Linked DNA regions of Homo sapiens: region 1 is linked to region 2. Evidence: fine-mapped expression QTL. Tissue or cell type: whole blood. Region 2 holds a variant in brackets; the other region holds the start of a gene. All regions are shown on one strand. Distances are from middle to middle.

What was found. PIP is the estimated chance that this variant, and not a neighbour inherited with it, causes the effect.
Region 1: it holds the start of SMAD5, and the variant in region 2 is fine-mapped to the expression of SMAD5 in whole blood (TOPMed, PIP above 0.99).

Annotation. Positions count from the first base shown.
Region 1 is chr5:136,128,617-136,136,721 of GRCh38, forward strand. It overlaps SMAD5 (SMAD family member 5), which reads left to right and starts at 4,229. Exons shown (of 8, transcript NM_005903.7): 1 at 4,229-4,346. SMAD5-AS1 (SMAD5 antisense RNA 1) reads right to left here and starts at 6,274. Exons shown (of 2, transcript NR_026763.1): 1 at 4,734-6,274; 2 at 897-1,165. RefSeq lists enhancers at 3,493-3,552, 3,583-3,632 and a silencer at 3,943-4,582.
Region 2 is chr5:136,078,944-136,087,048 of GRCh38, forward strand. It overlaps VTRNA2-1. Among named protein-coding and RNA genes, the nearest start is that of SMAD5, 50 kb to the right of the region's middle. The variant C/A (reference allele first, on the strand shown) is at 3,693.

The DNA.
Region 1 (8,105 bases), 50 kb after region 2:
GAAGAAATGAGTGTTCGCTCCAAGGCCTGCTTCAGAAAGCCTCTTTGTTTTATGACTCTGGGTGCAAGCAACCCTTTTAATTTTGTGTCTTGGATTCCAGCCATAGGAGGCCTTCTTTAATGTGGCAGATGGCTGGAGACAGGCAAGCCAGGTTTCTAGACTCTACATTAAGCTGCCTTCCCTAGAGAGGAGTCTCCTAATTATGTTGCTCTGAAAAAGAGAAGAAAAGATACCTTAAAATGGACACATTAAACTTATACCACGTGTAAAGTAACCACTGTCTTAAGCATCTGCAAACATGTGGAGGTCAGGAAACCTTTGAGAATCTGATGAAAGCTATAGGCTTTTTCTGCAGAAAATTTGTATGTAGGTATATACACAAAAATGTGCACATTAATTCCCGGGGGTGGGGTCACAGATTCTCTGATATCCGTCCCTGAAGCTTCAAGGAGTCTGTGGCTGCCAGATTCCTGTGCTTTGAGTGGAGGCAGCTGTCATTCTTTTACTTTTTCATTTTTCAATACATTATGATCTCAACTTCTGAGCTATGAAAATAAAGGGTCTGTGGATTATAAGGGAAGCATTTCACACCAGAACACCAAAATTTTACTGGAAAAAACTCCTTTCAAATATTGGATAAAATTACTTTTGCATATTCTCTGGTCAGCATGGAAGGTTTGCTCATTCTGTTAAAGACTGACATGAAATCTCTTCTGACAAACATGATGAGCTTTTTCTTACTGGATTGTGGGGTGCGCCTCTGCACATCATTTCCTTGGAACCTCACTCATCTCAGAACTCCTCAGTTGAGTTCTGGCTTCTGCACTGTTTCCAATATTAAGAATTGGGTGCAGTGGGCAGTCTGCCAATTAAAGAATAACACAGAATTCTCAGAATTTGGAAAGGAAGCTTTATTGTTTCCAAGGACTCTGCTGGAGGAGTCATACAAACTTCGCCATTTCTTCCTCTGATGTCCATGTGCCATGATTGTCTGAGGAAGGGAGAAAAAGTCTTTGAAGTGGCTACCAGGATCCTTTGCAGATCTCTGGGATGTCATTCACTCATGCTTCTATGCTGGGTGACTCCTACCATCATCACATTCTTCCAATTCTCCCAGTAGGGTATGCAGTAGTCATGTAGGCAGAGCCTTCTGAGCTACAGCAAACTACAAAATTAAGATATTTATTAATGATTTTCAAACCAAAAACAATTTGCCTCAATTACTAGACATTTTAAAATTAAAAAATACAGAAATGTTTCTAAATTATTCCAGTTCTTCATCTTCCATATATTGTCTCACCTTTCCTGAAAGTTGCCTCCTTCTTAGACCTGAAAAACTCAAGGAGGGAGTAGGTCATGGGCTAAACATTTAGGCTAATTCTCTACATGAAATTGATAATATAAATGATTATTGAAAAAATTCAAAGGAAAGGATCATTTCTTCTGTAAACATCAACCCAACCCAAGAAAAACTATTTGGGATTTAAATCAGGGTTTCTCAACCACAGCACAACTGATATTTTGGGTTGACTAATTTTTGGTAGAAGGAGGCTGTTCTGTGCATTGTAGCATGTTCAGCAGTGTCTCTGACCTGCAACGCCTAGATGCTAGTAGCACCGCCCTCCTAGTTGTGACAACCGAGAACATCTTTAAACATTGCCAAATGTTTCCTGGGGGTGCAGTCACCCCTGGTTGAGAATTATAGGACTAAATTGTCCAGAAATAGGTTTCTCTACAAGTAAAGTAAAATTGAGTATTGGAGTTGCTTTTATCTGGTCTTCTTGATCAGGTGAATGGCTAAATGAAAAAAGCAGTTTGTCTATTTTGATGCCCCACTGACTATGTCTATCTGTTCAGATCATCCTGTTCTACATTTGTTCTTAGATCCCATTTGATTGCCAAAAACAGGGACTTCCTTACTTCATTCTTATGGTTCTGGGATTCCTGTTCATTTGCTGTTTTATAATGTTTTTGACTGTATAGATATTTAGTGATCCCTCTGATTTTCCATAGTCTTTGAGGTCTAGGTAATTTCTTAGACCTTCGGAAGGCTGCTGGTGTGGTACTAAAATCTCCATTCCTCTCTTCTATGTTATCTCTTCCAACTTTAGACCTAAACTGAGCTCAAATAGCAAGTTGGAGAGGCTGGAGTTGCTGGCTGATTTGATCAGTATGTGGACACATAACTTAGGAAGCAAAACTGTTGGCTATGAGATTACATATGTGATTATGAAAAGGAATCTTGTAATCACAAATTCTTCTGACGTATGTACAGTGACTGCAAAACAGCAAATAATTTGTTTTGGGAAGGATTTTATTGGCTGTTTGAAGTGAGGAGTATCTCTACTATACAAAATATTTAAACCAAATTGTTATGTCCTATAATGTTCAACAAAGCACTCTGCAAACATCAGTTCTGGAAAAAAAAAAAACGTATCCTCCAAGGCAGGATTATATGCACTTCTGGGAGTTGTAAACCCATGCAGGCTCCAGAAATATTTGCCTTCCAAGGGCTGGAAACTTCTGAATTAACAACAAATAATCAGTGAGTGTGACAAAGAGTTAAAGTACACAGACTTTACTTTCTCAAAGTTTATGATGTAGTAAAGAAGTTTAAGATGGAGACCTGAAATTGCAAACTGGTGGCCAGTAGGCTAAATCGGGACCATGGATTTGTTTTGTTTGGCTTGCATGTAGTTGGCCTCCAGAATGTCTAACAGAGTGAGAGGAAGGGAGCGGGGTGGGGGGCGGGCAGGAGACAGGCAAAGAGAGAGAAAAATAGAAAGAAGTTGCTAAACAGATATAATTGAGATTTTCACATAAAAATCTAAATTTCCAGCTTTGCTTGAAAAATCAGAATATCTGCCAACACTGGGTCCTTATTCCCACATTTCCCTATGGTAACAGTTGGCTGGAATGAAATAGCAGTGACCCCTTTGGTCTCTGGAACTAGACACTCACTCTCTGGTCTCTTCCCCCACTTCCCCTTCACTCCTTTACTAGCCCTCTGTCACCATTTCAGATGGCCACCCCTAATGCAGAGACTTCTGGACATTTATTTAGTTTCTTCTCCACAGAAATAAACTTCTAGAGCCTGGAGCAAAATAGTGGCTGCGCCATTTGTGTGTCAGATGAGATGACCCTGGCTCGGGCCATGGAGGTGGCAATTGAGGTGTGAGAAATGGTCAGATTTAGGATAAATTTTGAAGAAAGAGTCAGTAGAATTTCTGATGGATTGGATTAGGGTGTCAAAGAGCATTCCAAAATGACCCCGATTTTGATTTTTACTTATTTTAAAAAGAAAACCTATAATAGAACATTGGAGAGCCAGTATTGACCTTTTCAAATAAAAACAAAATTATTCAAAAGCTTTTTCTTACTAGTACTATTCAAATCGGGTACCCTATGTGGTACCAATATTATATTCTAGGAAATACTGACGGTTTTGGAAATTTGGAGGAAAAAGCATCGAGAAGAGCTCCAATTACTTAGAAAAGAGAGTCCAGGAGATGGGGTGGTGTATATAAGCCTATGGATGGTGTCTCTGCAACTCAGTGGCCCCGCCTGTCCAGGGGCTGGGTCCCCACGGGATCTCCCTCCCCACAAGGAGGTGGAGAGGCTATGTGTCTTGAACAACTGGGGTTGCGATCCAGTGTATGGGCAGTCCCACTCCTGGAACTCCAGGGTGGGCACTCGCTCCATTTCCACAGGCCCTCAAGGGTTCCAGGATTGCCCCGTGGGAGGGGTTTTAGTGCTGCATCTAGTAAGAAGCTGTAAGATGCTCAGAAACATGTTTTGAAGCTACTTTGCACAGAAAGAAGACTCTTCATTCAGATTTGTATTACAGATCAATAAAAGTAGCTAAGTCGTATCTGAAGATGTTTTTGTTTACACTTTGTATGTGACAGAAAACCTCCAGTTGTCTGTGTCAAGGACAATTACTTAATTTTATTACAATGTATACTGATTTGGTTAGTGGAAGCTTCTAGCGCCTACTGTGGTGGTGGTGGGAGCTATCTGATTCCCATTCCCAGGCCTGGCCATCGACGCGAAGGCCTCCAGCTGATCGGAAGTCGGCGTTGGCCGGCGCGGAGCCCGGCGCGGAGGCTTCTTTCAGCCGCCCGGGCAAGACACCCCTCCCTCGGTCCCGCAGCGGTCACTCCGCCTCTGGCGCGCATGCGCCGACCCCAGCGGGCGTCCTCCCGGGCTCCCTCTCCCTCCCTCCCTCATCCGGGTCCTGGGCGAGCGGGCGCCGTGCGCGTGTCCCGCGGCCGAGCTGCTAATAAAGTTGCAGCGAGGAGAAGCGCAGCGACGGCGTCGGGAGAGCGCGCCTAGCCGGCTCGCGAGTGAGTGAGGGTCCCCGGCGCGCGCGGGCGAGGGGAACTGGGGGCTGCAGGCTCTGCCCCGGCGGACTCGGGCCGAGGCGGGGGCGTTCGGCCGCGGACGGAGCGGAAACGACCCAGGGCCTGTCGGGCGGGAGGTAGGCCGAGTCCTGGCCTGCCGGGGTCCCGGCTGGCGGACACGGTGCGGCCCAGCGGCTGCGGAGGCCTCGCTGGCTGCCCGGGGCGTCCTGAGGCGGGGCCGGGGCTGGCCCTCGTCCCAGCCCCGCTGTTACCGCCCAGACTTTGGAGGGAGGCGTCTGGGACGCCCTGGAGGGGACCCCCTGACCCCGCGCTGTCCTGGGGAGCGGTTTGCTTTCCTAACTCATCGGATGTACCACCCTGGATACACACCCTTGATAGGACTGCGGTGCTCGGCCGGGCAGCCTGGGCTGCTGCACTGCGAAGCTGTCCAATGGCTTGATGAATCCGTGCCGCCGTCGCTTTGTGTTTCAAAGATAAGGATCCGCGCTTATCGGTGGGAATTACACTCTGGGCAGTTGTGACCGGCTACTGCAATCAGCTGGTAGTTAGACCTGGTTTCTGCCACTTGCCATGTCAGTTTTCACCACTGCAAGGATTTCTTCTACTTCATGTAAACTTCTCTGTGCTGCAAAGAGAATGCCAAAGCAGCGTCTTTTTGCCTTCACCATATTCAGCCGCTGGCCGGGTCCTATACTTCAATATCAGGGCTCAAATTAATATTCCAGTCTCTTCCCCTCCCCTTTTCCCCTCTCCTCCTTTCAGCTGCTGTTACTACGTGGAGTTTGGAGCCTAAGCTTTGAAAACTCCCATGTGGCGCGCCCGTCTTAAGTCTGAGCATGCTCAGTAGCCAAAACAGATTTTTGGTTGCAGAACTCGGGCGAGGATACTTGGGGTATTTGGACGTTTGCCGGCTTCCCAACAGAATGTTCCGGTTCTGGTGGTGATGGCATTGGAGAATGGGGCTTAGGCAAGCCTGTAGGTGAGGAATGGCTGAACACCCTGAGCCAGATGTTTATCTTGATTGTAAAGACAATGTTTCCTGACCAGCTGGAGCTTTGGGGGGGGGGGGGGGGTGTTGCGGGGGGAGGGAGCAATTTTGGTTGCTTGTGCATTTAAATGGGTGTGGCGCTAAGTATATCTTGTTTACCTTATCTTTCTGTGGAAAAGTTTTGATGTCTAGGTTTGTCACATCATGCCTGTTGCCTAGCACTACCAAAAGGGTTGTTATCTAGCAGCAAAGATTGAATAGGTGGAGGTCGTGGCTTGGCCTCACAGAAGTTGAGAGGAAAGGGTACTTGGGTTGCGTTTTTGAAAATTCGTATTTAAAACTAGAGTACTTGAATTTCCTTAGAGTACCTGAATTGCCCAGAGTGAATTAGTTTTTAATTTTAATTTGAAAGACAAAAGATTGAAAACCTTAGTCCCAGTAGGTTTAGTAACATTCCAAATAGCTTACAATTTCTGCTAGATGCCAATGCAGTAGTATCCATTGTGGGGAAAACAGTACCTACATTCAGTGTGACAGTTTCACATTTATGGATCCAAATATCATTATGAAATTAGTGTTCCAAATTTAAGGAGCTATTTGCAGATGTATAACAAATTATTTTAGTCTTTTATTCCTTTGGTAACTATTAATATTTTTTTCTCTACAGTGAAAATTGTAAAAATGCAAAACTTAGACAATTTAACAAAACTTAACCTTCATAAAGGTTGTAGATACTATGTTTAGATTTATAAAGTTTAATTTTGATGATTATTTGTGTGATTGTTCCTATACAGCTTCCTTTCCTTCCCTTTCCACATTGTTGCTCCCTCAGTCTTTTTTACATTACTGCTGTTAATTTACCCATGTATCTTTGTTAAAAATACCTTATTCATCATTTTGTGCTTCCATTCCTTTCAGATCATAGCTGAAATAAGCAAGAAAAGTTAGATTAACCTTCTCAACTGACTTTACTCTCAGGTTTTAAAGGCATCCACATGATATGGTCTAGTTAAAAGGAGGAAGAGAGCAGCAAACTGGAAAAAAAGAATAAAATATTTTCGTAGGTTCTGTACAGATCTGGTAGTATTATCTGCGTGTCTGGTTCACTGTGGTAGGCGCCACAGAAATGGGTAGATTGATAATGTGTTGGATTTCTTTCCCCTCTGGCAAAGTCAGCTATTAATTTCAGTGGGAGACAGTGGCAGAATGTTGTTACTAATGAGGTTTGAATCAGATTGTTGTTTACTGTTGGTTATGTAACATGTTGCTGGGAGTATTATTAAAAGTTGCATTCTGCAGCAAAGTAGAGGCAAGTAAATTCTGCTTACCCTCTTCACTGGGTTTTAATTCTTGGCTGAACCTGAAGGCACATTAGATTACAACCATAATTATACCTGGGCAGCCTGTCTGTTTCCTGTTTTCATCATGAACCCAAACATTATGATTTGCAGTGATGATCTTTTTTGTCCTTTGCATTGAACGGAGGCAGTGTGTTTTCTCCCTCTACTGAAAACAGATTTGTAACTTGGTCAAATTAAAGATTTTAGTGTTTTGAAAACTAGGCAGTAAAATACCAGTTTTTCATTTCTTAATACAGTTACTTAAGTTGAAATACCATCTAAAAAAATCTATTTCATATATATTCTTTGTCTTTATGTAAATTTTAATATTACTAGTACTTTGTAGAGTTAAAGAAACTCTTTTTGTTTATGACATATCAGTGTTTATTATTACCAGATGTATATGTTGGTCTAGGCAATGAGCCACACATCTGGGTGAATTTCAGAGCTGACTTGAGTACGCTTGAGGATATAGGTGTCTATTCTCTTGGTTTATCAGTCTTCCCTGTTTTTACTTCTAGACGATCTATATTCCTTGTATCTGTCTGTCTGTCTCTCTGTCTCTCTGTACACTAACCACAAAGAAGGCAAATAGTTTATTTCTTCAAATGTTACAAGCAGCTTATAGCCTATGATTTGCCCGTCTTCTCATAGGGTCAAAGACATTGAGTAAGATTCCCTTTTATAAGGGATACTAGTAGCCTGAGGAATGATTCTTGTCTCCACCAGTCTGGATATTCTAGAGAAAAGAATACCTGGATATTCTAGAGAAAAGAATATTCTAGAGAAAAGAAAAGGCCCAAGGAAGCTGGGATGCAATATAGGGTGCTTTCCCATCAAAACAGATGATGAAGGACCCTTGGAAGCTGACCCATGGCATCCCCCCGCCACTGGGTTCTAGCTCTGTCGCCCAATCTGGAGTCCAGTGGCGCAATCTTGGCTCACTGCAACCTCCGCCTCCCGGGTTGAAGCAATTCTCCTGCCTCAGCCTCCCAAGTAGCTGGGATTACAGGCACCCACCACCATACCCGGCTAATTTTTGTATTTTTAGTAGAGACGGTGTTTCACCATGTTCGCCAGGCTGGTCTTGAACTCTTAACATACCTTGTTTTTCCACTTCTGAAGTTAATAGAATAATAGTCATTGGAATTTGCAGTTCATTGGTGTTGTCACATACCCTTTACCTCTAATCAGAAGTCTGAATCTGAGAAGTTTGTTTACTAAATGGGAGGTAAAGATTTAGAACTCTTTTGGAAGAATTGTTAAAAACTAGATTGTTGTTAGGACTAATCTCATAGGCCACCTTAATATTCTAACAGCTTTGTTGTTTTCCAACCTGGAAAGATGGGGTAATTACAGAGTTCTTAGGTTTTTCATAAATAATCAGCTAGTTCTGGGCTATTTATTTGAGAG
Region 2 (8,105 bases):
TGGCAAACTGGAAAATGAAGATTGATCAAATGTTGAGTTGAATCCCTCTAGTCCCTCACTCCGCCACCACCAACACCACTGCTAATATCTTGGCTTCTATCATAGGTCTAGCTCAATAGTTTTCCCCTTAGCTCAGTTTCTCTCCCCTGAAAGGTTCAAGTTTGGGCTCCTCTTTCTGTGCCTGGGTTGTTTCTCTCCCAGAGGGAGGTGCTCGCTCCTGATGTTCGCTGTTCCCAAACCCCTATAAGGATCCTTCAGTCCAACCTCTTGGGTGGGGAACAGAGGGGGTCCGTGAATCTCCAAGGTCCTTCTCCTGCTTGCCAAACTGAGGGAGGAACTCCCACTAGCCCTAGGTGTAGCAGGGGGCCCGCCAGCAGTCCCTGGGGCTCTCTGCTTGGGGGCGGGCATAGGAGGGGAGGTGCACACTGGAGAGGAGGCGCGCGGGACCGGAGGCGCACACCGGAGGGGAGGTGCCCCCACCAAAATTTAAGTGCGGCGCAACATGCACCACAGGTAGGGGCACTACCAGGGCAAAAAGACTTGGTGAATGCGAGGGCCGGGCCTGATCAAAGGTGCGTATGGTGGTACCAGAGCAAGGCGGAACAGCTGCTCAGTGGTCCGCAACCGGGTCAAGGGACAAGAAGACGATTCTGGATTGTAGGCCGCCCGAGAGCGCCCCCAGGAGCCCATCACTGCGAACACCCACTGCCTCTGGGCTTGCATTCTCTGCCTCCCCAGAGACGCAGGCATTTTCTCCCCTGAAAAAGACCCCTCCCCATACCAGCCTAGACTTTCCCAAGGGAACTGAGGCCACTTCAATCTAAAGCCCTAAGTATAGGCAAGTTGTGTTCCACAATTCTACTTATAGGGATTTAATATGAAAAACACATGTGCATGTCCCTGTGCATTAAGCTACTTAAATCAGCTAATACTCAAATCTGGTCAACAATGTACTAGACGCTGTAAGTACAGCAAGGGGAGAGGCCCCTGCCCTTGTATGGCTTCTAGGGGGGAGCCCCCACGCTAAAGGTAAAGACAAATTGCATAAAATGTCTGGACACGATGCGAACAGGTGAGAATAGCGTAGGTACAGGCCGCCAGGGAGGAAGAAACTTGGAACTTTCAAAGACGTAAAGAAAAATTCGGAGCGAGTCTCACTCGCTGTGGTCCAACAGGCAAGTCCTGGCGGGTGGCAATATATGTGAAAAAAACAGTCATACAGATAAAACAGTAGACGGCAGCTATTGCTGTTAAACTTCCGTCCTACTTGGGACGAAATCCATAACGCACTCCGCGGTCCGAAGTTGTGGGGTCTCGGAGCTTCCAGGTGTGTCTCGTGAACTGCACAAGCATTTTTTTGTCCCCATGCGTCCTACCTGGCAGTACAGGCTGGTCACGCACGCCCTGTAAGACCAGTGGCCAGCCTCCATACTTTCTGTCACACCTTCAAAGTGACACCAACTTATGTTATCAGCCTATTAATTTAGCAAAGTTAAAAGGGATAAAAAATAACAAAGCCTTCAGAGTGACAGATTATACCGAATTTATTGCATAAAAGGGTCAGTAAGCACCCGCGGGTCTCGAACCCCAGCACAGAGATGGACAGATAGAAAGTCCGGCATGAGGAGGTAACCGCTTGAGCTAACTCCGACCCGGGTAGGAGTGTGCGACTGAAACTTCTAAACCATAGAAGAGTGACGATGTGGAGAGGGACGGGCTGCATGTGCTCCCCGCCCCCGAGAGGCCTGCGTCATGCGGTCTCGCCCGCTCTGCGCCAGGCGTCCTGCTAACGTGTCCTGGAGGGACTCTCAGTTCCTCCCGCCCGCATCCTGCGCGGGAACCGTGGAAGGGGGCAAAATCCACCCACTGGAGGGGAGGCAGGAGGGTGCGGGGGGGCGTGTGGGCCGTCTACCTAGGTCCAGCAGCCAGGCTGCTGAGGAGTACCCCCGCCAAAGGCTTTTCGGGGTTCTCTCCAGCAGACGGGGGCAGCCTAAGGCCTCCATAAAATCTCCCCGAAGCAGCCTATGAACTTGCCAAAGGCAGGGGTTCTGTGGTTTCATTTCTTGCCAGGTCCTGGGCTGGACCCTGGAGACGGAGTTCATCATCAGCAAATCCTCTTTGGGTGGGGAGTTGAATGAATTAATGAGTGATTAGCAGGGCACTAGGGCCCAGGAGTAAGCCCAGAATTGAGATCACAGGCTGAAGATTTAAAAGCTTCATAGCTCAAGAGAAACGCTCTGTTAAGGCTGAAGGAGAATAAATCATTCCTCTTTTTCCCCAACCCATCCCCTTGTCTACACTACTTTTCTTTTGAAAGATTCAGGAGCTGGATGGAGAAAATTGCTAACAAAGAAAATGGGACCTTCAGAATATTAATAATGTCCCTGTTTGTTGAGCACACACACACCATGTGCCACGCTCTGGGTTAAACATTTACCTCATTTCATGGCCGGAACAACTCTGAGATCCATAATGTTGCCCCCATTTTGCAAATGAATAAACTGAGAATCAGTGGTGGTAAGTAACTGAAATGTTAGGAATTAACAAAAAGTGACATATTCAGGAACAGAACCAAAGTTTGAACTCTCAAGAAAGAGTTGCCTGTAGTGTATGTCTGTCTGCCTGTCTTGCTTAAAAGTATCTCAAACAACTGGTAAGCTGCACTAGACAGGGATCTTCCATTCTGTTCTTTGCTGTCTCCCTATATCCTCCTCAGTTCCTAGCCTGGTCCACAGTAGACACTCAATAAACATTTAAGTGAGTGAGTGACTGGGGATAGTAGGACCCCATTATACTAGAAACTGCGCTGTCCCAACCTGGGTTTGAATCCAGCTTCCCCTCTTCCTAGCTGTGTAGCTTTAAACTTTTTAATTGTTTTTCATATTCATTTTGTATTAAACAAAAACCACGAGTACAGTAAAAATTAAAACAATAAAGGTAGTGAAAGCCCACCACCCTTGACCTAACTGCAGCTTCCAATCCAGATCTCTCCCCAGAGGTAACCACTGTTTTTTAAAATTTTGCTGTGTCTCCTTCTAGTCCTCTTTCTATTATATAAAGATAATTAAAAATATATAGCTTTATTTGGGTTATGGCTGTGTTTTGATATGAAGGACTGCACTGTACACATTGTTCTGCACCTGCTTTGTGGGAAATTCCACAGCATGCCTGGGAGGTCCCTCATTATTTATAATGGCTCCCCAAGAGTGCATGAAGCATGATTTGTTTTGCCATCCCCTGTTAGGGCTAGACATTGAAGGTTTTTTTGTTTGTTTGTTTTTTTCCATGAGTTTACCAATAGCGCTCCAATGAACACCTTTGCACACGCCTTTTTGTGAACATGGGCAATTTCATGAATGTGAGGATAAACTCTCAGAAGTGGAATTGCTGGGCTGAATAGCATATATGTTCATTGTAATTGCCAAGTTGTCATCCAAAAATGGGGCTATTGATAACATACCCCTGATGGAGGGAGGTATGGGAAGTTATGCTGAAATAACACATTTTATTCAGGCTAGGTACCTAGTAGTCTCGGTAAACAATTACAAAAATAACTGCCAATGACCATTTCCCCGCTAGCCATTTCCAGCTGCTGATCTGATCCAGCCCTGGCTTCGTTGCCTGGAGCCTGGATTTAGTAATGAAAACTGGCCAGCAGAAAGGACCCAGCGGGTGCGTTCCAGGTGCTCCCC[C/A]TGGTGGGGAAATGTCCCTGGACAGTAAGGAAATCCCCTGTCTTTGTACACTCTAAATCAAATCACATCCCCTCCCAGCTCAGCACCTTGAAAGACCTCCTCTCTTATAATCCAATCCAGACAGGGTTTACTGGATGATCAGGTGCCCACCTAACTTTCTGGCAGTACCTGGTGCCCCTCTCCTCTTTCTTTGCTCTGCTGCAACCACCTTGCCTTCTCTGGTTTCTCAGGCATGCCCTTTCCATCCTGTTCACTCTTTCTCAGAGATTCCCCACCCTCCAATCTCATTCTTTAACACTCAATTCTTATGCCACCACCTCAGAGAACTCTTTGTTGAACACTCTGTCTAAAGGGCCAGGCCACCTCTCTCCTCTCCACACACTCTCCTTACTCTTTGTTGCATCACCCTACGTCTTTCCACCATTAACAAGACATTAACCCAGACATTGCCAAATGTGGTAGAGACAAGTGTCACGAAGACAGAGACCATATCTGTCTTACGTATGCTATTTGTCTCCCAGTGCCTGCCACAGCACCTGGCAGTAGAAAGTGCTCAACATTTGTTACGTGAATGGATGAATTAATTAATAAATGATACCAACAAGCTGGAGTAGAATTGAAATTGAAGGCTAGCAGCAGGTGAGGCAGGACATACCTCCTGGGGTTTTTGTTTCCTGCCCTTCATATGCCCTTTCGTGATCAATATAATAATTTTTTCCTGGGGTAGCCTTTAGTCAGAGGCATTATCCTGAGTGCCCTGGAATAGTGAAAAGAAGATAGAGGAGCTTTCCACAACTTTACTTCCATAATCTTCACCAAACTCTGCAAGGTAGAACCTTTTATTTGCTGGATGAGTAAACTGAGGCTCAAAGGTAAAGTAGCATGTCCAGCTAGTGTTGGGCTCAAAGAATGGGAGTACCTGGTGAGGGGAAGGTTAGAAAACAGTCTCTTCCTCTAGTCCAAAAGGACATATAGTCTGAAAGGAAGTTCAATCTCATGCTTGTGCAATGGTGGTACTTCTCAGTGGAGAAATGTATACTGGCTAAAATTCAGTGGCAGGCTCATCTATTCAGCATACCTTTAAAGATCATCTACTTTGTGCCAAGCCCTTCAGGGTTGATTAAGGGGGTAATTTCAGCCTTCAAAAGCCTTACAACCAGGACATGTAACAGATCATTGTTCTGTAGGATGTCAAGTGATATATTTGGAGTATGTACAGGCAAGGCTATCACATATGGCCAAATTGTGCATAACTCAAATCTGGGTGTTGCCCTTCAGAATGACTGTGATGTCAATGGTACTCTCCAGAGTTATGCAGTGTACAACCTGAGCAAGCATACGTGGCTACCAGTGGGAATGGGATAAGTCATCTGGATTTAGGTGCACAATCTGACAAGTGAGAAGAGAATAGAAAAGAGATCTCAGAGGAGCATCAGTATGTAGCGTTCTGTGAGAGAAGAAAAAGCTTAGAACCAAGGCATTAGAGAAGTCAACAGAACAGGGACCAAGATGGAGGTGAGGCCAGCAGTGCCAGAGGCTGCACACAGTCAATCTCCCAAATGACTGTGGCAACAAGGAGTATGTTGTTCACCTTGGCAGGAGTGGTGAGACTGAGAGTCAGCTTTTTGATGGCTGAGTAATGAATGGGACATGGGACACAGTGTGCATGTTCAAATCTTTCTGGAAGTTGGGCTGTGAAAGGAGAGAGGGAGCAAGGGTTGTAAGGATATTCAGGACTAGGGAGAGCTTTGTCTTGTTGTAGGTTTTTCAGATGGGAGCCTGGAGCATGTCTAAACATTGTTGAGAAGAAGCAGTGGCAAAAAAAAAAAAAGTTGAAAATACATTAGAGAATGTTTTCACTAGCATAATTCATATAGGAAGGTTGCAGAAGAAGTGGGATTCATAGTAGGCAAGGATTCCAAATGATAGCTAGTCAGGATTCCAGAAGGCTTCATGGAGGTGGCATGCCTTAGTCCTGGGCAAAAGGGGCCCCTGCCCTAAGCCTAATGCTTTAAAGAGCCCTCCCTGGAAACCTCTCCACAGTGTGATAAGGAACTGTGAAGGAACCAAGGGAAAGGTTTGAACTCTATCTCCTGCCATATACAAAACGCAACCATTTAAAAAAATTAAATTTAGGTAATGATAAAGCATAGATTTAAGTGTATAACCTAACCCAGAACTCTTTTAGATCATGCTCTACATTACCAGAACACTCAAATCACCTGCCAGAATGGCACTGTGCCCACCTGCTTTCAGCATCTATGTAGGCCTTTTTCTCAGGGCATCCTTCCAAAGACAGAGCATGCCAACAGGGAAGCCAGCTCATTTTATGAGCCAGACAAACTCTTTATAAGAAAACAGCAGAAAATGTCCCTTATGAACATAGATGCAAAAATTCTAAATAATAATTTAGCAAATACAATCCAACAATCTATACAAAGGATAATACAACATGACCAAGTGGGGTTTATCCCAGAAATGGAAGATTGGTTAAACATTTGAAAATCAATCAACATAGTTTACTATGTTAAAAAACTAAAAAAGAAAACTCACATTATCATAACGATAGATACAGAAAAGGCATTTGAACATTTTAACATCAGGAATGCCTGATTTTTTTAAAAAAAAAACCTCCCAGCAAACTAGGAATGATAGGAAACTTCCTTAACGTAATAATGGCCTCTACCAAAGGGATACCACTAATAGCATACTTAAATAGAAAAGACTGTTTTCCTCCTATGATCACAAACCAAACAGGAAAGCCTGCTCTTACCATTTTTTTAACATCATATTGAAGGTTTTAGCCAGTGTAATAAATCAAGTAAAAGAAATAAAGGGTATCCAATTGAGAAAGGAAGAAGTAGAATTGTTGGCAGAATATAGAAAATCTGAGGGAATCTAGAAAAAGCTGCTAGAACTAGTGAGTGAGTTAGCAAAGTTGCAAGATACAAGATCAGCATACAAAAATAAATTGTATCCTCATTTATTAGCAACAAGCAATTAGACATTGAAATTTTTTTAAGTACCATTTATAAAAGCACAAAAAAGTTATGAAATACTTAGGAATGGATATGACAAAATATGTGCAAGATCCATAACTGAAAACTACAAAACACTTCTGAGAGAAATTAAAACCTAAATAAACGGAGAAACATATCTTGCTCATGGGCCAGAAGACTCAATATTGTTAAGTTGTCAATTCTGTCCCAATTGTTCTGCAGATTCAGTACACTCCTGATCAAATCCCAGCAGGCTTTTTTGTAAAAAGTTGACGAGTTGATTCTAAAATTTATGTACAAAGTAAAGGACCTATGTTAGCCAGACAACTTTGAAAAAGAAGAATAAATACGGAAGGCTATCACCACTCAATTTTAAGTCTACAGAAATCAAGACAGTGTAGTATTGGCGTAAAGATGGACAAACAGTTCAATGGAACAGAACAGACTCCAAAAATAGGCTCACACATATATAGATAACTGATTCTTGACAAAGTTGCAAAGGTAATTAGATGGAGAAGGTGTAGTCTTTTTAACAAATGGGGCTGAATCAACTGGTTATCCATATGCAGAAAAATAAAGTTTGAACCACACTTCCTCCCATACACAAAATAAAACCATTAAATAAAAATAAAAAGTAATGCTGGATCATAGATTTAAACATATAACTTAAAAAGCATGAAGCTTTGGCTGGCCATGGTGGCTCACACCTGTAATCCCAACACTTTGAGAGTCCAGGGTGGGAGGATTGCTTGAGGCTAGGAGTTCCATACTAGCCTGGGAAACATAGTGAGACCTTACTTATAAGAAAAAATTAATTAATTAAAAAATATTTTAAAAGTAAAAACCATACAACTTCTAGGAGAAAATCTTTTTGACCTTCAGTTAGACAAAGATTTATTAGATGAAAGATCAAAAATCAAAAGAATCACAAAAGAAAAAAATTGATCAACTGAATTACATCAAAATTTAAAACTCTGCTCTCTAAAAGATGCTGTTAAGAGAATAAAAAGACAAACCACAGACTGAGAGAAAATCTTTGTAAATGGTATACCTGGTAAACGGCTTGTATACAGAATAAAAAATAACTCAATAGTGAGAAAACAAACAGCTCATTTTTTTCCATGGGCCAAAGATGTGAATAGACATTTCACCAAAGAAGATATATGATAGCAAATAAGCACATGAAAAAAAAAAATCTCAGCATTGTTAGTCTTTAGGGAAATGCAAGTTAAAACCATAGTAAGATACTACTCCACATTTATTACAATGTTTGGAACAAAAGGCCATTTTAAGTGTTGGCAAGGATGTGAACACATATGCTGCTGATGGGGATGTAGAATGATATCATCACTTTGGAAGAGAAAGAGTTTGGCAATTTCTTAAAAAGCTAAACATACACCTATCACATGGTCCA